Linked DNA regions of Homo sapiens: all the other regions are linked to region 2. Evidence: fine-mapped expression QTL. A gene starts in region 2. Each other region holds a variant in brackets. All regions are shown on one strand. Distances are from middle to middle. Region 1 overlaps HSD17B11 (hydroxysteroid 17-beta dehydrogenase 11). Region 2 holds the start of HSD17B11 (hydroxysteroid 17-beta dehydrogenase 11). Region 3 overlaps HSD17B11 (hydroxysteroid 17-beta dehydrogenase 11). Region 4 holds the start of MIR5705 (microRNA 5705). Region 5 overlaps NUDT9 (nudix hydrolase 9). Region 6 overlaps HSD17B11 (hydroxysteroid 17-beta dehydrogenase 11). Region 7 overlaps HSD17B11 (hydroxysteroid 17-beta dehydrogenase 11).

Region 1 (4,080 bases), 32 kb after region 2:
GCCCGGTAGGTTTCAGCCTTATTTTACCCAGCTCCTATTTAAGATGGAGTTGCTGTGGTTTACATGCCTCTGACAAAATAATCATGATATGCATGTTATAATTTTTAAGGATATTTTAAATGCAAACATATAGTTATGCATTGAAAAAATATATAATTTTGGCTCTTAATTTAAAATAATATATGTTAATAAATATTATGTGCAACATCGTTTTCTATTTCTGCGTGGGATACCACTGCACATACGTGCCACTAGTTATTCAATTTACTCATTATCATTGGTATTTTGTCACTCTTTCAGTTGCAAGGAACAAAAAACTTAAACTGCCCCAGGCCCAAAGAGGAATTTTTTGGCTCTGTGATTAAAGTCTCAAGCAGGCTGTCTTCCTCTGATGGCCAGATATCTACCAGAAGTTCCAGGGTTAAACCCTTTAAATTCCAAGTCCAGCAGGAAGGGAAAAAAAACATCACTTCAACAGTGGCTTCAAACGTTCTTGTTCTAGAGGTCAGTGACTAGACTAGCCTGGAGCCAATCACTGTATGCATTTGGTGACAGCGGTATTACCAGAACAAGGGGACACAAATGCTGATGGGAAAAAACAACAGCTGTCCACTACAGACATTTCACATTATTCCCAACTATTTGCTTTAATGAACTGCACTCCAGGGACTATCCTTGAACATTAATCTTTGGAGACATCATTGATTATTACCTTGGGATAAACACCGGATCTGAGAGCGTGGCATACTTTTAATGAATTTGATACCTTTTGCCAAACTGCCTTCCAGAAAAGGCTACCAGTTAACCTGTGCTTTGGAAAATAGAAAGCTGTGGAAAGAAAGTGTTTTTTGTCACTTTTTTGAAAGTTTGACATATATTGAATGAAGCCTTAAAAAGAAAAGATTGCTAGATTCAATTATATGAGGTGAAATATCTGTACATTGAAAAAAACTCAGATGAAAATTTCTGTCCTTATAATTACTGCTAGGCAAGAATTCCGTCTTGTTTTACTTTGCTTTTATATGAATTATTCCTAAAGTAAATCATTTTTATATGCCTACATCTACTGGCATTTTTATATTATGATTTTTCCATGAATGCCCTTTAGCCATTTATCTATTAGAGTATTGTCTTATTCCTTTATAAAAGTTGCCATATATTAACCTTATCCTTGTCTTATATGTTGCAAATGCTTTACCAGTTTGTCACTTGCCTCTTAATTTGCTTGGAGTTAATAAAGTTTAGAATATATCATATATAAACCTGGTTTACTACCCACACGTAAAACCTGATTCTGCCACTTTGTTTTGTATCTTCAGGCAAGTTTGATAACCCATCTTTACCTCAGTTTCCTCTTTGGTAAATGAGGATCTTAATATATTTTATAGGGGTATTATGAAGATTAAACAAAATAATTATTTAGAATAGGCCAGGTACTGTGGCTCACACTTATAATCCCAGCGCCGTGAGAGACTGAGGCAAAAGTATGACTTAACCCCAGGAGTTTGAAACCAGCCTATGCAACGTAGCGAGACCCACATCTCTACAATAAAGTAAAATAATTATTCAAGTGTTGTGGCACATGCCTGTAGTCCCAGCTACTTGGGAGGCTGAGGTGATAGGATTGCTTGAGCACAGAAGTTCCTAGGTTGAAGTGAGCTATGATTGCATCACTGCACTCCAGCCTAAGTGACAGATAAAGACTCCCCAAAAAACTCCAAAATGCATCAGAATAACTGAGGGCAATGTCTAGCACTTAGTAATCTATTTTAGATCTGATTTTTATTTATGTTGTTTTTCAGTATACAGAAGCTTTTAATCTCATATAATTTAATCTAACAATCTTTCTTTTAAGCCTTCTGTATTAGTCCCCTCTCACCCTGCTATAAATAACTGCCCAAGACTGGCCAATTTATAAAGGAAAGAGGTTCAATTGACTCACAGTTCTGCGTGGCTGGGGAGGCCTCAGGAAACTTACAATTACAGAGGAAGGGGAAGCAGGCATGTCTTAAATGGCAGCAGGAGAGAGACAGCGAGAGAGAGTAAGAGCAAGAGACGAACTGCCAAACACCTAAAAAACCATCAGATCTTGTGAGAACTCCCCCACTATCACGAGAACAGCATGGGGAAAACTGCCCCCACGATCCAGTCACCTCCCACCAGTGCCCTCCCTCAACATGTGGGGATTACAATTCGGATTACAATTGTTGATGAGATTTGGGTGGGGACACAGCCAAACCATATCAGCTTCAATAAGTGCCTAAACTTTTTTTAAAAAGGTAAGAAATTTTTTTTAAAATTTTTT[A/T]AAAAATTTCCACAGCTTTCTGTCTTCCAAAGCATAGATTAACTGGCCAGAATGTATAGCTACTTTGTGTAATTGCTAATTCATACAGATTTAACAGAATAAAAGATTATCTGATAATTATTGCCACTGAATTGCACACTTAAAAATGGTTAAAATGACATGTTTTACATGATATATATTATACCACAACTTTTAAGTTAATTATATATCAAAAACCATTTAATTGTGTACATTAAGTGAATGCTTTGTGTGACATATGAATTTATATCTCAATAAAGCCCTTTTTAAATTAAAAAAACCTGAGAAAGTAATGTCCATTTAGAATAAGTAATTTCACTACTACTTCCAAATGAAAGAGCTGTTAAAATAAACGCTTTGCATTGTGATTCATTCATTTGACAAATATTCATTGAGCACCTAAGAGCCAAGCACTGTGCTGGGCCCTGGAGATTCACTGGTGACCAAAACAGTCATGGAGCTTATAGGAAAGGTGTGGGAAACAGATGTTTTAAAAAATTTAATCTCAGCTGGGCGTGGTGGCTCACGCCTGTAATGCCAGCACTTTGGGAGGCCGAGGTGGGCAGATCACGAGGTCAGGAAATCGAGACCATCCTGGCTAACATGGTGAAAACCCGTCTCTACTAAAAATACAAAAAATTAGCCGAGCATGGTGGCGGGCGCCTGTAGTCCCAGCTACTGCGGAGGCTGAGGCAGGAGAATGGCGGGAACCCGGGAGGCGGAGCTTGCAGTGAGCCGAGATCGCACCACCGCACTCCAGCCTGGGTGACAGAGCAAGACTCTGTCTCAAAAAAAAAAAAAAAAAAAAAAAAAAAAAATTTCTCTAATGAATGTTCAGTTACAAATCTGAGATAGATACTATCATAGAAAACTGAAAATTACTATATAATGAGAAAATAATTTAGACTGGGGGTTAGGAAAGGCCTCTTTGAGGAAGTGAAGCTGTGACTTAAAGGAAGAATAGGATTTATCCAGGAAAAGTTTTCAGCAAATTCTATGGACATCTTAAAGTAAATAAGGAACAGCTTATAGTGACACTGAATTTTGTGGAACAACAACAAAAACAAATACTCTACTAATTTTCTTTAAAAGGCTTTTTAAGGAAATGTTCTTATTCCGTAAGTGATGCTAAGATGCAGTAAATCTTCTATGTCAGGGCTTCTTGGACCTTAATGTGCCTACAGATTTACCTGAGAATCTTGTAAGATGTGGGCTCTGATGCAGTAGCTCTGGGCTGGGGCCTGAGACTCAGGGAATGCCCACATTGCTCTGCAGAGGACCATGCTGAACTGAGGAAAACAGGCAGACATTTCAGAATTCTTGAATTATTTTGTAAACTCTCTATTTTCAGTTCAAGCAAGTTTGCTGCTGTTGGATTTCATAAAACTTTGACAGATGAACTGGCTGCCTTACAAATAACTGGAGTCAAAACAACATGTCTGTGTCCTAATTTCGTAAACACTGGCTTCATCAAAAATCCAAGTACAAGGTAAGTTGAGAAATTGAGACAAAAGGATTGGTGGTTGCTATGAATACCAGCCATTCTGTGGGTTTTCCTAAATGTTTTAATCCTGAAAACACCTGATAGTTAAAGCTCTTAGTTCATTTTGATTTCAGTTTCTGCAGATTGTGGGAAAACAGGTGGAAAGCCAAAAAGAGAGAAAGCAAGGGAGCGTGACTAAAAAAGTAAATATGAATGACATTGGTAAACTTGCTAACTCTTCCTTTTTTCTTCTCCTGAGTAATGATTCACAGGC
Region 2 (4,000 bases):
GAGGTTGCTGTGAGCCAAGATTTCGCCACTGCACTCCAGCCTGGAGACAGAGGGAGACTCCTTTAAAAAAAAAAAAAATAGCATAGCTAGAGCCTCAATATATGAAACTCAACATAGTTGAAACACTTCTTATAGTAGATCACCATGTCAGATGTAATTTATTCCTGTAGGTGTTGGACCAAAAAATTGACAAACACTGAACATATGTGTAGCCCCAGTTACACTTTTACTCACTGTGTAGATTTTAAAGTTGATCTAACAGATTTATTCATTTACAGTATAGGTATAAATATATCCTGACTCTACTTTTCTCTATTTCCTAGGAGGCTTTTGAAAATCAAATGAAATAATATATGTGGAAGAACACTTTGTAAACTTTCTATACAAGTGTTTTGTAAATTTGGATTTGGAGGCTATCCAAAAAAAAGTTGTAGATATTCTGAATTCAAAGAATTCTATAATGGGGTTCACTTTTGTGAGGCTGCCACTATCCCTTCATCCCCTATAACAACGTATGGCTGCTTAAGTAAGAGGGACAATCGAGTTTGAACTATTTGTGAACTTTGATTTTTTTGTGTGATCTTTCTGGCTCTTAAATATGAAAGTTGACTATTGTCACACAACAAAGTCCCTTCCCAAGCACTGGAGTGTCTTGCGCAAAACCCAAATCCAATGTCTGTCAAAAATGAGTTGGAAAAAAATGCATGCAATACCATTATTAAGCTCTTACTGGACACAAGCCCTAGTTAGGTCTTTTCTTCCAGTAACCAATCTCTAGAATTTTTTCAAGTCACTAGTTAGCATATACTGAATACCCATTTATATAGGCTACAAAACCAAATGTTACATAGGTAATCTTTAGGCTAAATGATTTGCTATTTATTCACTTGAATAAAGATAAAATTCCTAAAGTACAACATATATTTTTTATTTTCAAACTCTAATAGGTCAAGTGAAAAATGATTATTCAAATATACTCTTCTTTCTTGTGGAAACAATCCCTTTAATACGATAACAATTTTTTCTGGCGCTTGATTGAAGCTGTCCTTGAACAGACAAAATTTCCCCTGTCTTCCAGAAATCGTGCTTAGTTCAAACTAAAATGTGATGTAGCGCAATTTCTCAGCTGGAAGCAGAACGATTGGTCTTTTCAGGATCCTTTAAGATAGGAATCTACATTTGCATCCTCTATCTAGTTTTTGTTTTTTAGGACAAAGTCTGGCCTTTTCGTCCAGGCTGGAGTGCAGTGGCGCGATCTTCACTCACTGTAGCCTCCACCTCCTGGACTCAAGCAATTCCCGTGCCTCAGTCTCTCGAGTAGCTGGAACTACAGGCACACGCCACTACGCCTGGCTAATTAAAAAAAAAAAAAAAGAGACCGGGGGTCTCCCTATGTTGTTCAGGCTGATCTCGAACTCCTGGGGTCAAGCGATCCTCCCGCCAGGGCTTCTCAAAGTGCCAGGATCACAGGCGAGAGCCGCCGCGCCCAGCGGCACCCCCTATCTAGTGATAAGCAACCTTCAACTATGAAAGAAGCATCTGGCCTGTGGACACTGTCGGTTATCCTTGGAACTTATCCAATTTAGGAAAACAAGTGAGCAACTAACCCTCCAAGGCCGGCTCACGACACCGGGAGAAAGTGGTGTAAAAGACAATCGCGGCCACACACCGCGTGGGGGCTGCGCAAAGCAGAACTAGGAAGCTTTGCTCCGGTCTGGACTTCGTCCCTCCCAGATCTCTGAGCTAGCAAGCACTGCAGCCCGAGCCAATTGCGAAAGACCAACAAAGCCCAGCCCAGCGGAAGGAACGGTTTCGGAGTTGTTTTTCTTTGATACGGGAGTTCCTCCTTGCTCTCGCCCCTACTCTTTCTGGTGTTAGATCGAGCTACCCTCTAAAAGCAGTTTAGAGTGGTAAAAAAAAAAAAAAACACACCAAACGCTCGCAGCCACAAAAGGGATGAAATTTCTTCTGGACATCCTCCTGCTTCTCCCGTTACTGATCGTCTGCTCCCTAGAGTCCTTCGTGAAGCTTTTTATTCCTAAGAGGAGAAAATCAGTCACCGGCGAAATCGTGCTGATTACAGGAGCTGGGCATGGAATTGGGAGACTGACTGCCTATGAATTTGCTAAACTTAAAAGCAAGCTGGTTCTCTGGGATATAAATAAGGTAACAGTGTTTACTATGTTTTACTTTCTGGTACCTTTAATTTGTGGATGTGTCTGCATTTTGCTGGCAACCACCCTTTACCTCATCTCTGCAAAGCAGGGAGGAAAAAAAAATTAGTATTGCCATTTTGCAGATGGGAGGGCATGAATTAATATGTTGTATGATCACATGATAAACAGACCTAGAGGTTATAATAGTCCCAGTTACTGCCCCATTTGTAAATTGATCCCCATTTTTGCCCTAAGGATAACTCATAATTTTTTCCTGAACCTGATTTCATTGATCCCTCTATTTTAAAAATAGGGAAAAAACAATCGTTTTAGCTATATATTAAAAGAGTAAGAAGCTTGTACCTATTAAGAGAAAGTCCTACTTACTGTTAATGAGAAAAGTGGTTTGAAAGATTATACTCGCCGTTGGCTCACGCCTGTAATCCCAGCACTTTGGGAGTCCAAGGCAGGCGGATCGCGAGGTCAGGAGATCGAGACCATCCTAACACACTGAAACCCCGTCTCTACTAAAAATACCAAAAAAAAATTAGCCGGGCGTGGTGGCGGGCGTCTGTAGTCCCAGCTATTGGGGAGGCTGAGGCAGGAGAATGGCGGGAACCCCGCGGGGCGGAGGTTGCAGTGAGCCAAGATGGCGCCACTGCACTTCAGCCTGGGCGACAGAGCTAGACTCCGTCTCAAAAAACAAACAAAAAGATTATACTCAACAGAAACCAATGCTACATTGCCATAGTTATTGCCAAGAGTAATTTTAAAAAGCATCTTTTCCGGGAGGCTGAGGTGGGGGGTTGCTTGAGCCTGGGAGGTGGAGACTGCAGTGAGCTGTAAACGCCCCACTGCACTCCAGCCTGGGTGACAGAGTGAGACCCTGTCTCAAATTTTTTTAAAAAACATTTTTTACCACGTTTGACCTGTGATACTGAAGGAGTGGCGGGAAAGCATCTTTTAGTAAAAACAATAAAAGGGAAAAAAACTTTCAGTGTAATTTTTTACCTAGGACAAGTGTAGGTGTGGCTTAGGGAGGAGAAGAGGACCTAGAATCCAACCTTTTATTTGACCTTTGGTAGATGAACAAAGGGGTTTCTAGAAGATACCTGATGGCCTGAAACATTATCCATTACACACTAGTTGACATGCAATGCTGTAAACAATAATTCAAAGGATGTGAAGTTAAATGAGGGTTAACCCAGTGAGTGGCTGATGAAGACAGCAATCAACAAATAATGACTGTCTGCTGCTTAGACATTAGGGATAGGGTGACAAACAGAAAATAAGGTTCCATGACCTCAGTCTAGTAGGGAAAATGGACATTAAGTAATTACAAGTGCAGGCTGGATGCGGTGGCTCACACTTGTAATCCCAGCACTTTTGGAGGCCGAGGCGGGCAGATGACCTGAGGTCAGGAGTTCAAGACCAGCCTGGCTAACATGGTGAAACCCCATTTCTACCAAAAATACAAAAAATTAGTTGAGCGTGGTGGCGTGTACTTGTAATCCCAGCTACTCATGAGGCTGAGGCAGGAGAACTGCTTGAACCTGGGAGGCAGAGGTTGCAGTGAGCCGAGATCATGCCATTGCATTCCAGCTTGGGCAACAAGAGCAAAACTCTGTCTTAAAAATAAATAAATTAATTAAATTAAATTAATAAATAAAAAAGTAATTACAAGAGCAATGAAAAATACAACCCAGGTCCAGCCTGGACCAGCATGGTCAAGGTCTGGCATGGTGATATAGTCAGACACATCTGAGCTTTCGTTTTCTGATTGGGTAACTTACTCAACGTTTCCACAGCTTTAGTTCCTTTTCTGCAAAATGGATAAAATAACA
Region 3 (4,080 bases), 23 kb after region 2:
ACACAAAACAGGGAGTTCCCACCTCTAATTTTAGCTTCCAGAATGCTTTGCCCCAGTGGAATTCATCATATATGCTCTGACGCCTAGTTTTTGGGATGAAATGAGAGGAAAAATAAGAGTATTGATCCTTTTCCCTGTAATTCAGCCCTCATCTATCATTGTCCTGAGTTACTACAGCCACAGAAAATAATTTATTCTAGCTCTAGTAGCCTATCTTAGGAAAAAAATTTTAATTTCTTTTCAGAGTTTTAGTTCAACAGTTTTAATGATTAATATGAAGAATGCAAGATAAAAGAACTGGATTTATGGTGGAAGGTGAAGCTTTTGATTCTATTCTAAAATGTTTTTTGCTGCTTGCTAAGTAATTTGTTCACAAGTATTTTGATTTTTAAAAGAAAACAATTAGCTAGCTAATATATTCTGTCAACCCAAATAGCCAATTTATAAGCATGAAAAGTTGCCAGTATGGGAACGCTCAGTAAAACTGAGTTCTGAACATTAGCTTGTAACAAAATGTTATTTAAAAGAAAAATCTGGGGCCAGGCATGGTGGCTGACACCTGTAATCCCCCAGGCTTTGGGAGGCCAAGGCAGGAGGATCACTTGAGCTCAGGAGTTCAAGAATAGCTTGGGTAACATAGCAAGATCTCATCTCTACAAAAAATATTTTAAATTAGCTAAGTGTGGTGGTGCGTGCTTGTAGTCCCAGCTACGCAGGAGGCTGAGGTGGGAGGATTGCTTGAGCCCAGGAATTGAAGGCAGCAGTGAGCCATGATTTCACCACTGCACTCCAGCCTGGGCAACAAAGACAGACCTCAACACAAAAAGAAAAAAAAAAAAAGAATTTGGAATAAGAAGTACTAATTCAGACTATTTTTTTCAGCCCTCCAAGACATCTGAATAATTTAGACTATTTCTAATAAGAAGGAATTTGATGTAATGTTACAAAGTGCAGGGGGCAAAAATCTACTCACTTTTAGCTTTCATATATATATATGCCTTTCTATATATAGGTTCACCATAAAGTTGAAAAATATGTTATTCCTTTTACACACTCAAGATCATTAACTCTGACTTTCAATATATTCTTGCATTTTTGGTCACTTAAGTAAAATCAGAAAATAAGGTTTAGTAAAAGAAAAAACTAAATTTATGGATAGCTTCACCATGCAGAAATGTTAATGGAAAGGAGTCCCGATCCAGACCTCAAGAGAGGGTTCTTGGATCTCGTGCAAGAAAGAATTCAGGGTGAGTCCACAGTGCAAAGTGAAAGCAAGTTTATTAAGAAAGTAAAGGAATAAAAGAATGGCTACTCCATAGACAGAGCAGCCCTAAGGGCTGCTGGTTGCCCATTTTTATGGTTATTTCTTGATGATCTGCTAAACAAGCAGTTTGTTATTCATGCCTCCCCTTTTTAGACCATGTAGGGTAACTTCCTGCCATTGCCATGGCATTTGTAAACTGTCATGCGCTGGTGGGAGTGTAGCAGTGAGGACGACCAGAGGTCACTCTCGTGGCCATTTTGGTTTTAATGGGTTTTGGCCATCTCCTTTACTGTAACCTGTTTTATCATCAGCGAGGTCTTTATGACCTGTATTTTGTGCTGACCTCCTATCTCATCCTGTGACTTAGAATGCGTTAACAGTCTGGGAATGCAGTCCGGTAGGTTTCAGCCTCATTTTACCCAGCTCCTATTCAAGATGGAGTTGTT[C/T]TGTTTCACATGCCTCTTGACATTTCCCCCTTCCCTTTTATAAGAGAACTCTTAATCCTAAGAGTTGCAGACGGATGAAAATCCATCTTTTGTAACTTCTTCAGGCTGAATGGGGCCATGATATTCCTGCCTAACTGTTAGGGTCTCTTGTGTTCAGGGTAGAGAGGAGCTTAGTCAGAAAGCATCAGTGTGGCGAGGGCCATTCATGACTCTTGAGTTTTTTGTGTGTGTGTTTTTTGTTTTTTTGAGATGGAGTCTCGCTCTGTCACCCAGGCTGGAGTGCAGTGGTGCGATCTCAGCTCGCTGCAAACTCTGCCTCCCGGGTTCATGCCATTCTCCTGCCTCAGCCTCCTGAGTAGCTGGGACTACAGGTGCCCGCCACCACACCCGGCTAATTTTTTGTATTTTTAGTAGAGACGGGATTTCACCATGTTAGCCAGGATGGTCTTGATCTCCTGACCTTGTGATCCACCCGCCTCGGCCCCCCAAAGTGCTGGGATTACAGGCATGAGCCACCGTGCCTAGCCGACTCTTGAGTTTTGACAAGAGGTGATATCTGGGAGATTAATAAGTATTTAGTTTAAGAAAACATTTAGTAAGCCTGTCCTGTGTTCCCACACAAAGGGTATAACAGCAATATATTCCATAAGAGTAAAGCAAAGTAAGTAAAGTTATTCCAAGTAAACTAAATTAGAAGGCTTTCCATGAACTGGGCAACTGTTGAGACCAAGCTGATATGGGGTTGCTAGCTGATTGCAATGTGCCTAGAATTTTACATTACCCATCCCTCTTGTTTCTTCTGAGCAGCAGTTAGAGATCCCTGGTTGGTTTACAGGAATAAACAGGGTTAGCCTAAATTGCAGAAACAAACTTAAAAACAACTGAGACTAGAATTTAATAACAAGTATACTATAGTTCTTGAAATATAATATTCTCTCTCCAGTTTCCCATTTTTATTAAAGACACATTATGGTAAGACTGATTTGCTTTATTATACTTGGTCTGATTATTTGTATAAAGTGCAGCGAGAATAATTATTTTTCACACAGGCTTTTTAATTGGCTTTGATGGAACTCTGTTTTATAAGGAATCTCAGGTAAGACTTTTTTAAAGCTAAGCCCTGCCATGGGTTTGTACCCTTAAATACCTATGAGTTGGGTAAAACACTTTTCTTTTGAGGTCCCAAGTTAACTTGGGCCTCCTGGACCTGTAAGAAAGTGACATTCTTTACTTACCATAGGTCAGAAACCCTGTACAGGGACTGTGTAGGCAAAGTATGAGGCCAGTTTCCCATAGGGCTTTTATTGGCTTTACAAGTCAAGTTTGATTCTTTAAAGGAAAGCACACCATTCCAGTCAAAGCCTTGGTAAAATAACCAATTTCTCCAATAGTGTCCCATTACAAAAGAAAACAGATTTTTGTTGCACTTATACAAACAACTATATTGCCATAAGTTAAGAATACTTACAATTGGTTTCCATTCCGGAGAAATCAGGTAGAGAGAAACAAATATGTTTCAAATTTTGTTCATAGGAGTATATTTTACTTAATTGCTGCAAGCTGTAAATAGCTTAAAAGAAGTTTCCTTTGAAAAATAAAAGATCAGCAATATTTTAAGCAAAGTTAAAAAAAATTACTTCAGTTTTCTATTGGTTCAGTTAATTCAGTTAACTCCTGTTCTACTTGTTATTCATGAACATTCCAGCTTTTTATGAGAGTTTCGAAAGTTGTTTTCTTTATTTTAATGTTACAATTTCTAAAGTTATTAGCAACCTGCATTTAAGAACATCTGCTAGAATTCTATAGTTGATTATAAACCACCTTTTAAAGAAGATTAAAACAAGACAACAACTGTCTGTGGATGATAAAAACTTTAGGACAGCCACTATTAAAGCCACAATTGATAAGGAAATTTGGTTACTTTTGTGGCATACAAAATTTTACATAACAATTATAATTATTAGTAACATACACTAAGTCATATTAGAAATAAAGGAGTTTCTTATAACTTTGGAACATATACCAATAACATATTTATACAAATATAGTCCAAAGAAAGCAAAACACTGTTTCACATTTGAGAATGCTTCCTGGATGATTTTTATACCAAATAAGCGAAATTTCACCTTTACATTAATGTATTATTAATGTTAAACCCAATTTTTAATAAAACCTTAGAGACATATTTACCCAATTTTAATGTTTAATCCTAAGGTAAGATTTTATAAACCTTTATAACCCTTTACATTTTTTTGTGAAAGCGCAGATAAGTCCTCTAAGAGAAACCTGTTGTGCTTTTATTCCAATGTTTAATTTATGGAAAAACTGAATAATACCCCTTTAACTTTAGCTAATATGTTCATACACAGA
Region 4 (4,080 bases), 89 kb after region 2:
ACACAGGAAAAGGAACTGTACTGGCTATTACATAAGAAACAATGGACCCAAGAGAAGAAAAGGAAGAAAGAAAGGTTTTTTGGTTTTTGTTTTGTTTTGTTTTGTTTTTTGTTTTTTTGAGATGGAGTCTCACTCTTTCGCCCAGGCTGGAGTGCAGTGGTATGATCTCAGCTCACTGCAAGCTCCACCTCCCGGGTTCACGCCATTCTCCTGCCTCAGCCTCCTGAGTAGCTGGGACTACAGGCGCCCGCCACCACACCCGGCTAATTTTTTGTATTTTTTGTAGAGACGGGGTTTCACCATGTTAGCCAAGATGGTCTCGATCTCCTGACCTCGTGATCCACCTGCCTCGGCCTCCCAAAGTGCTGGGATTACGGGTGTGAGCCACCGTGCCCAGCCTTTTTTTTTTTAATAGAAAAAATAATCCGACTCCCACTACATCAAGACTAATCTTGTTTTGTGTGTTTTTCACATGTATTATAGAATGCTTTTGCATGGACTATCCTCTTGTTTTTATTAAAAACAAATGATTTTTTTAAAAGTCACAAAAACAATTCACTAAAAATAAATATGTCATTGTGCTTTAAAAAAATAACCTCTTGTAGTTATAAAATAAAACGTTTGACTTCTAAACTCTGTCTCTATGAGTGTCCTTCAAGAACCAAGGATGTGGATGGTAACAGCTACATCTGGCAGTTATTAAATGAATCCAGGGGTTTTCTCAACTCTGGTTTCTTTGACAGCAGGAGTGCTGGTTTATCAACTGGAACTTACTGACCCCTTTCTATGTGTGAGATTAAGCACAGTGCTATTGTTTCTAATTTTTTTTCTTAGTCACCGGCAATAATTTTTTTCATAACATTCTTTTAATTTCTTGCCTTATAATCAAGAAATTTATGAGTAAAATGTATTATTTTTAAAGTATGGTTACAAAAATTCAAAAGAGAAACATGGAAAGTAAAAAATAGAAGCTTACCCCCAGCAATCCCATTTCCCAGAGGTCACACTGTCAATGCACAATCTTCCAGTCTTTTACTGATGCATGTTCATGACAAATACATTATATTCTTATTGCATGGGTCGTATCAGTAGTTTCATACCATACATTATGTTCTGTAACTTGCTCTTTTAGCTTACCAACTTATCACAAACAGCTGTTTGTTTCAGTATAGAGAATTCAACTTTTTTTCATGAGTACACAGTACTAAAATGGTACTCTAACCATTCCCTTTTGATAGGCACTTAGGATGTTTCCAGTATTTCTTAGTTCATCTATTTAAATATTAATTTAACAAATACTGAGTGCCCTCAAAGTTCTAGGCCCAGGGAAACATATATGAATAAGGCAAACTCCTTGTCTTAACAGAGCTCACATTCTAGTAGGTGGGACAAACAATAAAGGGACTGCAAATATGAGAGAGAGCATTTAAAGTAGTAGAGTCAGGGAAGAGCACGCTGAGAAAGAACATTTTGCGGACGAACTATTACCATACACAGGCAACTAAAAAATATTTTATGATATACATATTGACAAAAATAGAAACCTCTTAAATTCCAGTGTTAAGTTCAGAGCAGAAAACTTCTTATTTTAATTCCATTTTGGTTTTAATCTTTTATGAATGAAGCTCAGAGAAATGTGCGAGCAAAATATTCATCTCTCTTTGTCCATTTTTCTTGCTTATTTTGAGTGTAGTCCTCCTCCTTAAAAGTTCCACCTGCAGCCAGGCGTGGTGACTCATGCTTGTAATCCTAGCACTTTGGGAGGCCAAGGGGGGCAGATCACCTGAGGTCAGGGGTTCGAGACCAGCCTGGCCAACAAGGCGAAACCCTGTCTCTACTAAATATACAAAATTTAGCTGGGCATGGTGGTACATGCCTGTAATCCCAGCTACTCAGGAGGCTGAGGCAGGAGAATCACTTGAACCTGGGAGGCGGAGGTTGCAGTGAGCTAAGATCACGCCACCGCACTCCAGCCTGGGCAACAGAGTGAGACTCCGTCTCAAAAAAATAAAAAGCTCCACCTGAGCTTCCAAATGTTTTCCTATGACAATCTTCATCTATAATTCTCTCTAAGAGCCCTCTCTTTCACCAAAATCCCAGTTCCAAGG[G/A]CTACTGCTAGGATGTGCAGATCACCAGACAAATATTTTTTTGCAGGGCTTCTATCTATATAAACACTTTTATTAAAAATGCTTTATAAAATTTATAGGTCCATGTGCATGCAGTATAGTGATTTTTTGATAAAGATTTAGAATAATAGGAAGATTTGTGTATTTATTGTCCGAGCAGTACATGTAAAGATTCTTCTCGGCATCCTGGTACTATCTCTTTGGTCCAGGAATCATTTCTTTTTTATCAAATGAGCCATTCCTAGCTAATTTCATATCTTTTACCACAAGAAAGGGTAGCAATGCTGTTATTATTCATAATGCCATGGCTCTTTGTAATATGTTTGTAATAAAATAATATGAATCTTCACCCCTTTCCAATACCCTGCTACCATTTATTTAATCTTAGCTACATTATGCCTTTTGACATTGCATCATCCATTGTGCTACCCATGAATACTGGGTATCACTCAGAGACAATCACTCAAAGATTGTTACTGGTACAACACAGTTCAATATAGTACAATTGTTACTGGTACAATGTTTGATGATAATCACAAATTCAAGTCTTACCCAGGGTATATATACGAGAAAACATGAATGATTCGTTGTTTATTGCTCATTTTAAATTTATCATTTAGAATGTTATAGCATCACATAGAACAACACATCTTTCAACTGTGTCTTGTCTTGAACTTTTTAGGCCATCATCATTACATTTCTAGAATTGATCTCTGCCACTCCTGACCGTACCCTACCTCCCACACACCACCAGCAGCAGAGAGGGGATTGTGGACAGAACAAAATGAACAGCCCCATTTGCACAAGGAATGTCTGTCCCTCCTCTAGGAGAGCTTAACATTGACCAGGGAGAAGAGAACACAGCATCATCACATCAGTCAGAAAGGCCCACTGTTGTGAAGAAGCAATAGTCTTAAAAGCCCTCAGAAGAGATAAGTGCAGCCACCCCCCAACCCCCAGCCAAAAGGACTGCCTGACCCATGGCATAGAACCTGCAGAGGGGATAGGATGATTTTCCTGAATGCCATTGGCAAGCGGGGTAAGGACATCTGATGTCACCCTGCAGCCCTTGGATGTTATATAGCAGAAGTGGCATCATACTCAGAACAAACTGCGAGTGGATGCATGGGTCAACACATGCGGCTTGGGCAGTGGACCTTAGATAGCTTACAACCCTAAATTAGATCTATGCCCAATGTGAGTGAGAATTATCCAAAATCAGCATGTCAGCATCATTCTGGCAGCCAAATTTCATGTAATCCTGCAAAAGAAATTCTTTGCCAACCAGAAGTAGCAGTCTGCTCTCCAGGCCACCCTCCTGAAACGAAAGCCTGGAAACAAGACCCCAGGATGATCCTATAGTTACAAGTTGCAGAGCTCCCCAGGATATCTGGTCAACCTTATACACAGGGAGAGAAAGGGAGAGTACCCCAGAGAGAAAAAACAGAGCAGGCATCCGAAGAGGACTTGGAAAATTTCATAGAGGGCACTCCAAAGAATAAGGCTCTATGAGGCACAGGACTGGGGTAAGGCCCTCACTTGCTCAGATCTGAGGGTGGTATAGGTACAGCCAATCTTCAACTGTATGCAAAGCTTAAAGGAGTAGCAGAGTAAATGTATGGTTGAAGAGAAAATGCTTGGTTAGTTTCTAATCTAAATCTTATATGATCTATATAATAATGTTTCCAAAGATGGAATGAACATCTAACATTAAAGTTCCCCATTTACACAGGCCATGAGCCCCGAAACACCCATCCCAGGATTGCTGATGGGTGTTTCGGGGCTCATGGCCTGTGTAAATGGGGAAGTTTAAACATGCCCTTGCAGCATGGCTGCCGCATGAGAGGCATGTTGGAAATACAAACTGTTGCAACCCATCTCAAACTTACAAAATCAGAATCTGCATTTTTTAAAAACTCCTAGGTAATTCATATGTTTTAGAGGCATCTTTTTT
Region 5 (4,080 bases), 47 kb before region 2:
AACCAAGAATACAAAGTGTAACATTTTTATAAGATGATAACCATGATTTCAAATCTGTGATCCTTCTTTGGTTTTATTTGGTACATGCTAATTTTTACACTTCTTTCTAACTTTTTAATATGATTTGGCTCTGTGACTCCACCCAAATCTCACCTCAAATTTTAATTCTCGAAAATTGAGGGCAGAACCTGGTGGGAGGTGACTGGATCATGGGGGACGGTTTCTCCATGCTGTTCTCATGATAGTGAGTGAGTTCTCATGAGAGCTGATGGTTTTTTTGTTGTTTGTTTTTTTGAGATGGAGTCTCACTCTGTTGCCCAGGCTGGAGTGCAGCGGCACAATCCTGGCTCACTCCAACCTCCGCCTCCTGGGTTCAAGCGATTCTCCTGCCTCAGCCTCCCGAGTAGCTGGAATTACAGGTACCCGCCACCAAGCCCAGCTAATTTTTGTATTTTTAGTAGAGACAGGGTTCTGCCATATTGGCCAGGCTGGTCTTCAACTCCTGATCTCAGGTGATCCACCCGCCTTGGCCTCCCAAAGTGCTGGGATTACAGGTGTGAGCCACTGTGCCTGGCCAATCTGATGGTTTTATAAGGGGCTCTTCCCCCTTTACTTATTCACTCTCTGTCACCTGTTGCCATGTAAGATGTACCTTTGCTTCTCTCTTGCCTTCCACCATGACAGTAGGTTTCCTGAGGCCTCCCCAGCCATGCAGAACTGTAAGTTAATTAAACTTCTTTCCCTTATACATTACCCAGTCTTGGGTATGTCTATTTTTTTTTTTGAGATGGAGTCTCGCTCTGTCGCCCAGGCTGGAGTGCAGTGGCGCAATCTCAGCCCACCGCAACCTCCGCCTCCCGGTTCAAGCAATTCTCCTCCCTCAGCCTCCCGAGTAGCTGGGATTACAGGTGCCCGCCACCACGCCTGGCTAAATTTTTTATCTTTAGTAAAGATGGGGTTTCTCCATGTTGGTCAGGCTGGTCTTAAACTCCTGACCTTAGGGGATCCGCCCACCTCAGCCTCCCAAAGTGCTGGGATTACAGGCGTGAGCCACTGCGCCCGGCCAGGTATGTCTGTATAGCACTGTGAGAACAGGCTGATACACTTTTATAATATCTTAAGGAAAATGGATAATTTTTGAGTTGTATAGGAAAATCATTTTTTAAAAAGTATAGAAAGACCCGAATTATTGGGTTATCTTTATTTTTACTCTTACATGTTTGGATAAATTCTTACTTTAAGATACTATACCATTTAATAAATATCTGCTGAACAATTTTTCTTTCTGTTAATGTATTCAATTATTTCTGTTTCCAAGATACAATTACAAAAAGATGCATTCAAACGCTGCCTCTGCCACTTACTAGCTGTATACAAATTGCTTACACTCTCTTCCCTTATCTGTAAAATTCAATTAAAAATATCCACCAACAGGGTTATTGTGCAGATTTAATTACATCACATATGTAAATAAATTTGTACAACATCTGGCACATACAAGGATTTGATAAATATGAACTATCTTTTCTACTTTTTGGTGACTCATTATTGTAAGATGCTCTGCTCCCAGTACCTACCTCGGTCTTCCATTTTCAATCTCATACAGGCCATTCTTGCTCTTTCTCTCAACATGCCCATCCTTTTCGTTAAACTTGGGAGAAAAATTACTTTCACTGTAATGAGAATACCAATGTAAAATAAGAAATAATGATTCAAAACTACCAACAGCTTAATAATGAAAGTCAATCTGTTATCCATAAGAAGTATTCCTGAAACAATAAATTTTTAAGGGTTAGTTTTTTTTTTTTTTTCACAAATCCATCTTATTCCTTCAAAACAATTTTTAAGGCAAAAAAAAGTTTTAACCAAAACACCACACATTACAAAGATATATATTATTATTAAACTTACTAACCCCTCCAGGAAGGACTACCAGCAGAAGAGCTAGAGCTCCTACCTCATGCTACAAGAAGGTCTATTAGCAAGAAGGAATTGTTTGTGGGCACAATATGAAAACTATTTGCTCCCATGTAATTCCAAAAATAAGATTCCTTCTGATGATGTTTCTACTATTTCAAAATAATTTAAATTTCTTCAAATGCACACTGATTAATATTCTTATCAGAGTAAACCCACAAAGCAGTGAATTTGCCCCACAAGCTGCATAATAAATATGATGTAAATTAAAAACAGACATACTATGCTGGAAATGTTCTAGATCTTGATCTGGGCAGTGGTTTACAGAGCTATGTAAATGTAAAATTTTGCTGAGCTGCACACCTTCACATGTAAGAAATGTGCACTTTACAGCCAGGCATGGTGGCTCACGCCTGTAATCCCAGCACTTTGGGAGGCCAAGGTGGGCAGATCACAAGGTCAGGAGATCAAGACCATCCTGGCTAACATGGTGGAACCCCATCTCTACTAAAAAAATACAAAAAATTAGCTGGGCATGGTGGTGGGCACCTGTAGCCCCAGCTACTCGGGAGGCTGAGGCAGG[A/T]GAATGGCGTGAACCCAGGAGGTGGAGCTTCCAGTGAGCCGAGATGGCGCCACTGCACTCCAGCCTGGGCGACAGAGCGAGACTCCATCTCGAAAAATAAATAAATAAAATAAAAATAAAGAAATGTGCACTTTACTATATTTGTATCATGCCACAAAAAAAATTATTTTTTCTTTCTTTCTTTTTTTTTTTTTTTTTTTGAGATGGAGTCTCGTTCTGTCACCCAGGCTGGAATGCTGTAGCATTATCTTGGTTCACTGCAACCTCTAACACCCAGATTCAAGCGACTCTCCTGCCTCAGCCTGCTGAGTAGCTGGGACTACAGGAACATGCCACTATACCCAGCTAATTTTTTATATTTTTGGTATACACAGGGTTTCATCATGTTTGCCAAGCTGGTCTCAAACTCCTGACCTCAAGTGATCCGCCTGCCTCGGCCTCCCAAAGTGCTGGGATTACAGGCGTGAGCCACTGTGCCTGGCCCAACAAAAACATTTTTAAACAGACATAACTAAACTACTCTCCTCACCACTATAAAATCCCTGCCATAATTGCACTGACAGTGAATAAAGAGTTACATAGCACTGGATAGTTCATGGGCAGTTCTGAAACAGGTTTCACTTTTTTCTTGCTTTAATTCCATTGAGTGAGCAAAGAAATATCTGTGGTCTGTTTGGGAATAATTTCCAATTTCAATGATCCATACATTTTCTTAAGACTTCTAGCCAATCTGCCATCTAACATGCAAATAAAAAGAATTAAATGATAAAAACCATGAAATTATAAAACCAGAGCTGCAATGCCCTTGGGACTCTAGAGATTCACCCTTTTAAAAAAATCACCAGGCGTGCCGGCTCATGCCTGTAATCCCAGCACTTTGAGAGGCCAAGGCAGAAGGATCACCTGAGCTCAGGAGTTCGAGACCAGACTGGATGATACAGTGAGAACTCTTCTCTGCTAAAAATTTAAAAGTTAGCCAGGCATGGTGGCACACACCTGTAGTCCCACCTGCTCAGGAGGCTGAAGTGGGAGGATCACTTGAGCCCAGGAGATCAAGGCTGCAGTGAGCTATGATCACACCACTGCACTCCACCCTGGGTTAGAAAAGGAACATAAAGGGATGGGAAAAATGGGGAGATGATGGTCAAAGGGTACAAAGTTTCAGTTATGCAAAATGAGTAAGTTCTAGAGATCTAATGCACAGTGTGGTGACTACAGTTAATAATACTGTTCTTGTCCAGCCTGGACAATACAGTGAGACCCCATCTCTACTTAAAAATAAAATAAAATTAGCCAAGTATGGTGGAACATGCCCATAGTCCTAGCTACTCAGGTGGCTGAGGCAGGAGAATCACCTGAGCCCAGGAGTTCAAGGTTGGAGCAAGCTGTGATCACATCACTGTACTCCAGCCTGGGTGACAGAGAGAGAGAGCACCAGTCTCAAAAATAGTAATAATACAGTATTGTATACTTGAAACTCGCTGAGAGTGGATCTCAACTCTTCTCACTACACACACAAAAAAGGTAACCATGTAAGATTATTTTAAATGGCTTGATTGTTGTAATCACTTCACAATGTA
Region 6 (4,080 bases), 37 kb after region 2:
GTTGGCCAGGCTGTTCTCAAACTCCAGGCCTCAAGTGATCCGCCCACCTTGGCCTCCCAAAGTGCTGGGATTACAGGCATGAGCCACCATGCCCAGCTGAGCTCTAGAGATTTTTAATTAATACATAAGAAACAATTCTTCATACATTTGAGAAACCCCTTTATATATCACATCTGTTGCATATGTTTTTTTTTTCCCCAGTTGTTTTTTGTTTGCTTTTAAGCCTATTTTCATTTAGTTTTACATTAAAATTTTCTTAGGGATTTTTTTCTCATGGACTTTAGGTTCTGTGAGGTGTTTAGAAAGGTCTTTCTCATTCCAAGTTTTTGAAAATATTTACCCATATTTTTTCTAGCATATATTTTATGGTTGCATTTTTCATATTTAAATCATTGCCCCACCCAAATTTATTTTGATTTAAGAAGTAAGGTCACAGTATAGTTTTTTCCAAATAGTTAATGAGTTTTCTGCACTATTTATTAAATAATACATCATTTTCCTCACTGATATTAAATTCATATTATAAGTTCACATGCTTACTTGGATAGACTTTTGGATTCTCAATTTTATTGTAATGATGAGATTCAATTTTGCTTGGTTTTGTTTTGTTTTTCAGACAGGGTCTCATTTAGGCTGAAGTGCAGTGGTGTGATCATGGCTCACTGTAACCTTGAACTGGGCTCAAGCAACCCTCCACCTCAGCCTCCTGAGTAGGACTACAGTGTGTGTGCCATCATGCCCAGCTAATTTTTTTTTTTTTTTTTTTTTTTGAGAGCCAGGATTTTGCTGTTTGCCCAGGCTGGTCTCAAATTGGCCTTGAGCAATTCTCCCACCTCCACCTCACCTCCCAAAGTGCCAAGATTATAAGCATGAGTCATTGCATCCAGCCAAGATTCAATTTTTAAGTTTTATTCTGCCCCCTCAAACTTCCCCATATTTCCCCCAATTCAGCTGCCTTTGTTGAAAATGTATTTAAAATTAATGAAAAATATTCAGTGTGGCCACTTGAAGGGTTAATTTGAAGGTAAAATTGAAGATTCTAATTTTTTTCCTTTTTTTATTTTTTTTATTTTTTTTGAGACAAGGATTCGCTCTGTCACCCAGGCTGGATGCAGTGGCACAATCACAGCTCGCTGCAGCCTTGACCTCCTGGGCTCAACCTATTCTCCCACATCAGCCTCCCCAGTCCCTGGGACCATACAGGCATGTGTCCCCACACCTGGCTAATTTCTAAATTTTTTGTAGAGACAGGGTCTCCCTATGTTGCACAGGCTGGGCTCAAGGGCTCCTTGAACTCAATTGAACTCCTGGGCTCAAGTCATTCTCCCAACTTCAGCCTCTCAAAGTGCTGGGATTACAGGCATGAGTCACCATGCCTGGCCTAACAGTTCTATTTTATTATTATTATTATTTTTTTAGTGGAGACGGAGTTTCATCATATTGGTCAGGCTGGTCTCGAACTCTTGACAGCTGATCCACGGCCGCCAGGTTCTATTTTAAACACACTTAATTTAAGTCATCCCACAGGGAAGCAGAACAGAAAGCCAACGTTAGACAGAAATTTGGGAGCTGTCCAAAGATCTCAAGCCCCCAAGAATCTATCAAACAGTCTTTAAAATCTATTTTTAATACACAATTTTTGTTAGAAAACAAAAGTAAGAGTGTATATTTTAGAGGTCAATGTTTAAATTTATCAGTATTAAACAAGAGAACCCTAATTGGAGTCTGAAGAGAGAAGAGAAGGGACAGATATGTTTTTCAGGTTGGGAAAT[G/A]GATCTGAGGAATGAAAGTAGTGAGGATAAGCTTCACTAAAACTGAAAGCAGATGTTGAAGATAAAACTTGCCAGTTTCCTCAATTTCTTTTTCAGTATGTGGATACTAAAATAACATATTTGAGTCAAGTTTTAAAGTCATACTGTCTTTCAGTAGTTAAAAACAGACATCCTATTTTCAAAAGTTATAATTGAATTTTTTAACCTTGCCCCCCCTACAAGGCCGCACAGAGCTGACCTTAACGTGGGCTCCAGCGCCCTCTCCTGACAAAACTTACTAGTGCCATTAATTCCTACATATTGCCAAACTCCTCTCCAGAAATGCTGCACTGATTTGCACTCTGGAGGAAAAGTGTGAAAAGAGGCTAAGATGATTCTAGGCTGAATATAAACCTGGCTAAGGAAGGGCCTAAAGATTGGTCCTGACATATGAACCTCTTTGAGGCTAAGCTGGTACTAAAGTAGACCCCAAAGATGAAGTTGGTTTTAATATAGAAACTTATTACTTCTAATTAGAAGAGAGAACATGTTCCTCGTTAAATACCTGTTTACATTTCAGACACCAAATAAAATGTCATTTTCTTAAACCTCACAACAATACTTTTGGGGAGATGTTATTAGTCCCTCTTCAGTAGATGAGAGAGATCTGAGGTTTAGAGAAATTAAATTACAAGTTATATACCCTTTGGCCCAGTAATCCCCCTTTATGAATCTACCTGAGGGAGATAATTATCCAAAAGTGAAAATATGTGTGCCCGAGGATGCTTATTGCTGATTTGCTGTTAAAAATCCAGAATACTAGAGGGAGGAGCCAAGATGGCCGAATAGGAACAGCTCCGGTCTACAGCTCCCAGCGTGAGCGACGCAGAAGACGGTGATTTCTGCATTTCCATCTGAGGTACCGGGTTCATCTCACTAGGGAGTGCCAGACAGTGGGCGCAGGCCAGTGTGTGTGCGCACCGTGCGCGAGCCGAAGCAGGGCGAGGCATTGCCTCACCTGGGAAGCGCAAGGGGTCAGGGAGTTCCCTTTCCGAGTCAAAGAAAGGGGTGACGGACGCACCTGGAAAATCGGGTCACTCCCACCCGAATATTGCGCTTTTCAGACCGGCTTAAGAAACGGCGCACCACGAGACTATATCCCACACCTGGCTCGGAGGGTCCTACGCCCACGGAATCTCGCTGATTGCTAGCACAGCAGTCTGAGATCAAACTGCAAGGCGGCAACGAGGCTGGGGGAGGGGCGCCCGCCATTGCCCAGGCTTGCTTAGGTAAACAAAGCAGCCGGGAAGCTCGAACTGGGTGGAGCCCACCACAGCTCAAGGAGGCCTGCCTGCCTCTGTAGGCTCCACCTCTGGGGGCAGGGCACAGACAAACAAAAAGACAGCAGTAACCTCTGCAGACTTAAGTGTCCCTGTCTGACAGCTTTGAAGAGAGCAGTGGTTCTCCCAGCACGCAGCTGGAGATCTGAGAACGGGCAGACTGCCTCCTCAAGTGGGTCCCTGACTCCTGACCCCCGAGCAGCCTAACTGGGAGGCACCCCCCAGCAGGGGCACACTGACACCTCACACGGCAGGGTATTCCAACAGACCTGCAGCTGAGGGTCCTGTCTGTTAGAAGGAAAACTAACAACCAGAAAGGACATCTACACCGAAAACCCATCTGTACATCACCATCATCAAAGACCAAAAGTAGATAAAACCACAAAGATGGGGGAAAAACAGAACAGAAAAACTGGAAACTCTAAAACGCAGAGCGCCTCTCCTCCTCCAAAGGAACGCAGTTCCTCACCAGCAACAGAACAAAGCTGGATGGAGAATGATTTTGACGAGCTGAGAGAAGAAGGCTTCAGACGATCAAATTACTCTGAGCTACGGGAGGACATTCAAACCAAAGGCAAAGAAGTTGAAAACTTTGAAAAAAATTTAGAAGAATGTATAACTAGAATAACCAATACAGAGAAGTGCTTAAAGGAGCTGATGGAGCTGAAAACCAAGGCTCGAGAACTACGTGAAGAATGCAGAAGCCTCAGGAGCCGATGCGATCAACTGGAAGAAAGGGTATCAGCAATGGAAGATGAAATGAATGAAATGAAGCGAGAAGGGAAGTTTAGAGAAAAAAGAATAAAAAGAAATGAGCAAAGCCTCCAAGAAATATGGGACTATGTGAAAAGACCAAATCTACGTCTGATTGGTGTACCTGAAAGTGATGTGGAGAATGGAACCAAGTTGGAAAACACTCTGCAGGATATTATCCAGGAGAACTTCCCCAATCTAGCAAGGCAGGCCAACGTTCAGATTCAGGAAATACA
Region 7 (4,080 bases), 49 kb after region 2:
CAAAAACCTGAGATTTAAAGAGTTGAGGCCAGGCACAGTGGCTCACGCCTGTAATCCCAGCACTTTGGGAGGCCAAGACAGGCAGATTACCTGAGATCAGGAGTTCGAGACCAGCCTGGCTAACATGGTGAAACCCCGTCTCTACTAAAAATACAAAAATTAGCCAGGCGTGGTGGCACATGCCTGTAATCCCAGCTACTTGGGAGGCTGAAGCAGGAGAATTGCTTGAGCCTGGGAGACGGAGGTTGCAGTGAGCTGAGATCGTGCCACTGCACTCCAGCCTGGGCGACAGAGCGAGACTCTGTCTCAAAAAAAAAAAAAAAAAAGAGTTGAAATGTTTTCCCCAAAATTACTCATTACTTAAGTGGTTAAAGTAGGTCATCAAATACAATCCTTCAGACGAAAATACTCCTTCCCCCTCAGTATTTCTCTACCCCAACATGCACCCTCCTTTCCCACCCCAGCAGATTGGCTTGAAGTGTTTTTGGATAGTTTCTACAAAATCCATTAAGAACATTTGTTTAATGGGATTTGTAACTCTCGTTAACTTTAGCGTATTGGGAAAAAAAATGTTTCCACATACTGACATTTTAATGATTAAGATACTATTTTGCTAAGAAATTGAGTTTTTTCTGAAAGCCTTTTCTTTTGGCTTTTAAAATTATGATATTGAACAGTCATTGTATTTCAATAAGAAGTTATCTGACAGGGGCTAAAAACCTTAGGTAAAGAAATCGGGTACACTAGAAAAGTTTGGTGAATGCAGCACCGCTTGATAGGTAGGTTAGCAAGGCCACAGTGTGGATGAGAGAGTGCTCTATTTACACAGGTGTCTATAAGCTTTCATTGAGCTTGAGAATATTGAAGTCTGGTAGCAATGTGCTACAAAATGAATTTCCCTCTAAATGCTTTTCAAGGCATAGCATCCTTCAGTTTCTGGATTCATCCTCCTTGATACCCCTGCCTGTTTATGCTGCAAGCTTCCGTTGCCTTTGATTTTTTGCTTCCATTAGGCCAAAAGCCATCGATTTCATTATTACATTTCCTCTCCTATCAAATCTCCAAGATTTTCATATGTAATACTATTGCTTCAAGGTCCCATGGTGAACACAATATTCTAATAAATGAATGAACTGTGCTGAGAATTAAAGCTTATATATTTTTAAGCTCTACTCTCCTTCATGGATCCAATAATCATGCTCACTTTTAAATACAATATTATACTTCTCAATTGTCCCAGTTTTACTTCAAAATATATTTTTTTTCTGAATGAATTATTCTTTATTTATTTCTAAAGAATTTCATCCAGTTTTGTTTTTGTTTTTGTTTTTTTGAGACGAGATCTCACCATCTTGCCTAGGCTGGTTTCCAACTCCTGGGCTCAAGTGATCCTCCCGCCTAACCCTCCCAAATTGCTAAGATTACAGGCGTGAGTCACTCTGCCTGGCACATCCAGTACTTTTTGCCTCACTTCTTTTTTTTTTTTTTTTTTGCAGCGAAGTTTCACTTTGTTGCCCAGGCTGGGGTGCAGTGGCACGATCTTGGGTCACTACAATCTCTGCCTCCTGGGTTCTAGTGATTCTCCTGCCTCAGCCTCTCGAGTAGCTGGAATTACAGGTGCCTGCCATCATGCCTGGCTAATTTTGTATTTTTAGTAGAGATGGGGTTTCATCATGTTGGCCAGGCTGGTCTCAGACTCCTGACCTCAAGTGATCTGCTTGCCTCGGCCTCCCAAAGTCCTGGGATTACAGGCATTGAGCACCACGCCTGGTGTCTCACTTCTTTTAACTAGACACACACATTAAAAATAAGCCTCCCCAAAATGTTAGCCACCCAAATAGTTTAGTGGCATGGCAAATTTCATGAGTACATTTAATTATGTATCATTTTTTCTAAGTCATTAATAAAATGTTAAAAAGTCTCAGTACTAACTCTTGTGCAGCTCCTCTCTAATTGCACTTCTGTAACTGATTTTTTTAAGCCACTTATCTATCTATTTATTTATTTAGAGACAGGGTCTAGCTCTGTTGTCCAGGCTGGAATGCAGTGGAACAGTCATGACCCACTGCAGCCTCAGCCTCCCAGGCTCAAAGGATCCTCTAGCCTCAGCCTCCTGAGTAGCTAGCACTACAAGAGTGCACCACCACTCTTGCCTAATTTTCTTTTGTATTTCTTTGTAGAGACAGGATTTTGCCATGATGGCTAGGCTGATCTCGAAGTCCTGGGCTCAAGCGCTCCACCCGCCTCAGCCTCCCAAAGTGCTGGGATTACGGGGATACAGGCCTGAACCGTCACACCCAGCCTAAAACCCACTTTTTGGGGGCCACCTGCTAGTCTGTGGTAC[A/G]TATACTTGAGTGATTACACAACAAAGATGTAACATGGAACTAAGTAACAAAGCCAAAACCTAATTGCAGTGGCTCCTGCCTGCAATCCCGGCACTTTGGGAGGCCGAGGCTGGCGGATCACTTGAGTCCAGGAGTTCAAGACCAGCCTGGGCAATATGGTGAAACCCTATCTCTACTAAAAATACAAAAAATAGCCTGGAGTGGTGGCGTACATCTGTAGTCCCAGCTACTTGAGGGGCCAAGGCAGGAAAATCGCTTGAACCCAGTAGGTGGAGGTTGCAGTGAGCCAAGATCTCACCACTGCACTCCAGCCTGGGTGACAGAGTGAGACCCTGCCTCAAAAAAACAAACAAACCAAAAAAAACAACAACAACCAAAAAAACCAAAGACCTAATAAATATAAGCATATCATGTGGAGATGAAGGGCCTAAAGGTGGGCACGTACCTGTCATATTCTAATTCCTCTGATGCTTTAGGAATTGTTCACTAAGGAGACTGAGTATATAATAAAACTTGTATAATAGTATCTGATTTTTTTCCCGAGACTGCTTAAAGTTTAAAAGTAAAGTTGTCAGACCTAATCTAGCTCAATTATATTTGAATCTTAGTTACTTCTATAATTCTTATTTGTGGAATAGGAATTATAATATTGCCTTCATAAAGTTATTGTCAAACGTCAATGGAATAACCTATGTAGAAGGTTTAGCACAGTGTGTGGTACACGATAAGCACTAAGTGAATGATTGTTATTATTATTATCAATGGTAAAGTAGCTACCATTTCTGAGCACCTATACTAGGCTAGACACTACAAATCAGTTATGTTATGGTGTCTGTACCATACTAAAGCTGTTGGTTAGCACCAAACTAAAGCTGAAGCCTCGGTGAAGTATTTTGTTTCTGAAGACTGACTCTGATTTCAGTTTGGGACCCACTCTGGAACCTGAGGAAGTGGTAAACAGGCTGATGCATGGGATTCTGACTGAGCAGAAGATGATTTTTATTCCATCTTCTATAGCTTTTTTAACAACATTGGAAAGGTAAGTGACAGTTAAGAAACCTTAGAAATGAAAGGTAAAATAACAATTATCTATTGCATTTTTTACTGACATTTAAATCAGGCAGTTGATAAAGTACAGTTAAATGGAATTGACTTAATAAAAATAACAGGCTCAATAACATTGAGGCAAGATTGATACAGCTCTTGGGTAAATGAACCGAGTAATTTCCACACATTTTTACTTTTTGTAAAGAAAGAAATTTGTATATTTCTGCAAGTCTTGTCTTATAAATGAATGACTCTGAAGAAGGATAGTTTTTAAGCATCTTTACATAATGGAATCATAGAACAATGATATTAAAGGAGACCAGAGTTAGGTTTTAGGTATTTATTTAAAGATACAACAGATAATCATTGAGCTTTTGTTTTGTGCAAAATCATACTGAAGTATATGAATTGCTAAATTTTTTTTTATAATTTTAGAAATCCTTGAGTCTTGCTTCTTCCAATGTGGTTCTTGGACTACACACATTACCTGGGAGTTTGTTAGAAATACAGACTCTCCTGATCTCTTGAGTCAGAATTTGCATTTCAATAAGTTCTCCTAGATGATTTGTACGCATATTAAAATTTGAGAAGCATTTCTTTGGAGCAGTAGCTCTCAACTTTGGTGCACACTGGAATTCACCTGGGAAGTTTAAAAAATGCTGCTGCCTGAGACCAACTCCCCCAAATT

Evidence for each region. PIP is the estimated chance that this variant, and not a neighbour inherited with it, causes the effect.
Region 1: its variant is fine-mapped to the expression of HSD17B11 in whole blood (INTERVAL, PIP above 0.99).
Region 3: its variant is fine-mapped to the expression of HSD17B11 in whole blood (TOPMed, PIP above 0.99).
Region 4: its variant is fine-mapped to the expression of HSD17B11 in whole blood (INTERVAL, PIP above 0.99).
Region 5: its variant is fine-mapped to the expression of HSD17B11 in whole blood (INTERVAL, PIP above 0.99).
Region 6: its variant is fine-mapped to the expression of HSD17B11 in adrenal gland (GTEx, PIP above 0.99).
Region 7: its variant is fine-mapped to the expression of HSD17B11 in whole blood (TOPMed, PIP above 0.99). The same link has a PIP of 0.9 or more in subcutaneous fat.

Annotation. Positions count from the first base shown.
Region 1 is chr4:87,357,011-87,361,090 of GRCh38, reverse strand. It overlaps HSD17B11 (hydroxysteroid 17-beta dehydrogenase 11), which reads left to right. Exons shown (of 7, transcript NM_016245.5): 5 at 3,675-3,812. Among named protein-coding and RNA genes, the nearest start is that of HSD17B11, 32 kb to the left of the region's middle. The variant A/T (reference allele first, on the strand shown) is at 2,306.
Region 2 is chr4:87,389,027-87,393,026 of GRCh38, reverse strand. HSD17B11 (hydroxysteroid 17-beta dehydrogenase 11) reads left to right here and starts at 1,839. Exons shown (of 7, transcript NM_016245.5): 1 at 1,839-2,166. The coding sequence starts at 1,957. RefSeq lists enhancers at 972-1,544, 1,558-1,627.
Region 3 is chr4:87,366,193-87,370,272 of GRCh38, reverse strand. The region is part of intron 4 of HSD17B11 (hydroxysteroid 17-beta dehydrogenase 11); the gene reads left to right. Among named protein-coding and RNA genes, the nearest start is that of HSD17B11, 23 kb to the left of the region's middle. The variant C/T (reference allele first, on the strand shown) is at 1,711.
Region 4 is chr4:87,300,347-87,304,426 of GRCh38, reverse strand. HSD17B13 (hydroxysteroid 17-beta dehydrogenase 13) reads left to right here. Exons shown (of 7, transcript NM_178135.5): 7 at 1-633. MIR5705 (microRNA 5705) reads left to right here and starts at 3,844; the gene lies at 3,844-3,932. The variant G/A (reference allele first, on the strand shown) is at 2,109.
Region 5 is chr4:87,435,870-87,439,949 of GRCh38, reverse strand. It overlaps NUDT9 (nudix hydrolase 9), which reads right to left. Exons shown (of 8, transcript NM_024047.5): 3 at 1,578-1,673. Among named protein-coding and RNA genes, the nearest start is that of NUDT9, 15 kb to the right of the region's middle. The variant A/T (reference allele first, on the strand shown) is at 2,501.
Region 6 is chr4:87,351,640-87,355,719 of GRCh38, reverse strand. All of the region lies in intron 5 of HSD17B11 (hydroxysteroid 17-beta dehydrogenase 11), which reads left to right. Among named protein-coding and RNA genes, the nearest start is that of HSD17B13, 31 kb to the right of the region's middle. The variant G/A (reference allele first, on the strand shown) is at 1,773.
Region 7 is chr4:87,339,794-87,343,873 of GRCh38, reverse strand. HSD17B11 (hydroxysteroid 17-beta dehydrogenase 11) reads left to right here. Exons shown (of 7, transcript NM_016245.5): 6 at 3,268-3,384. Among named protein-coding and RNA genes, the nearest start is that of HSD17B13, 19 kb to the right of the region's middle. The variant A/G (reference allele first, on the strand shown) is at 2,345.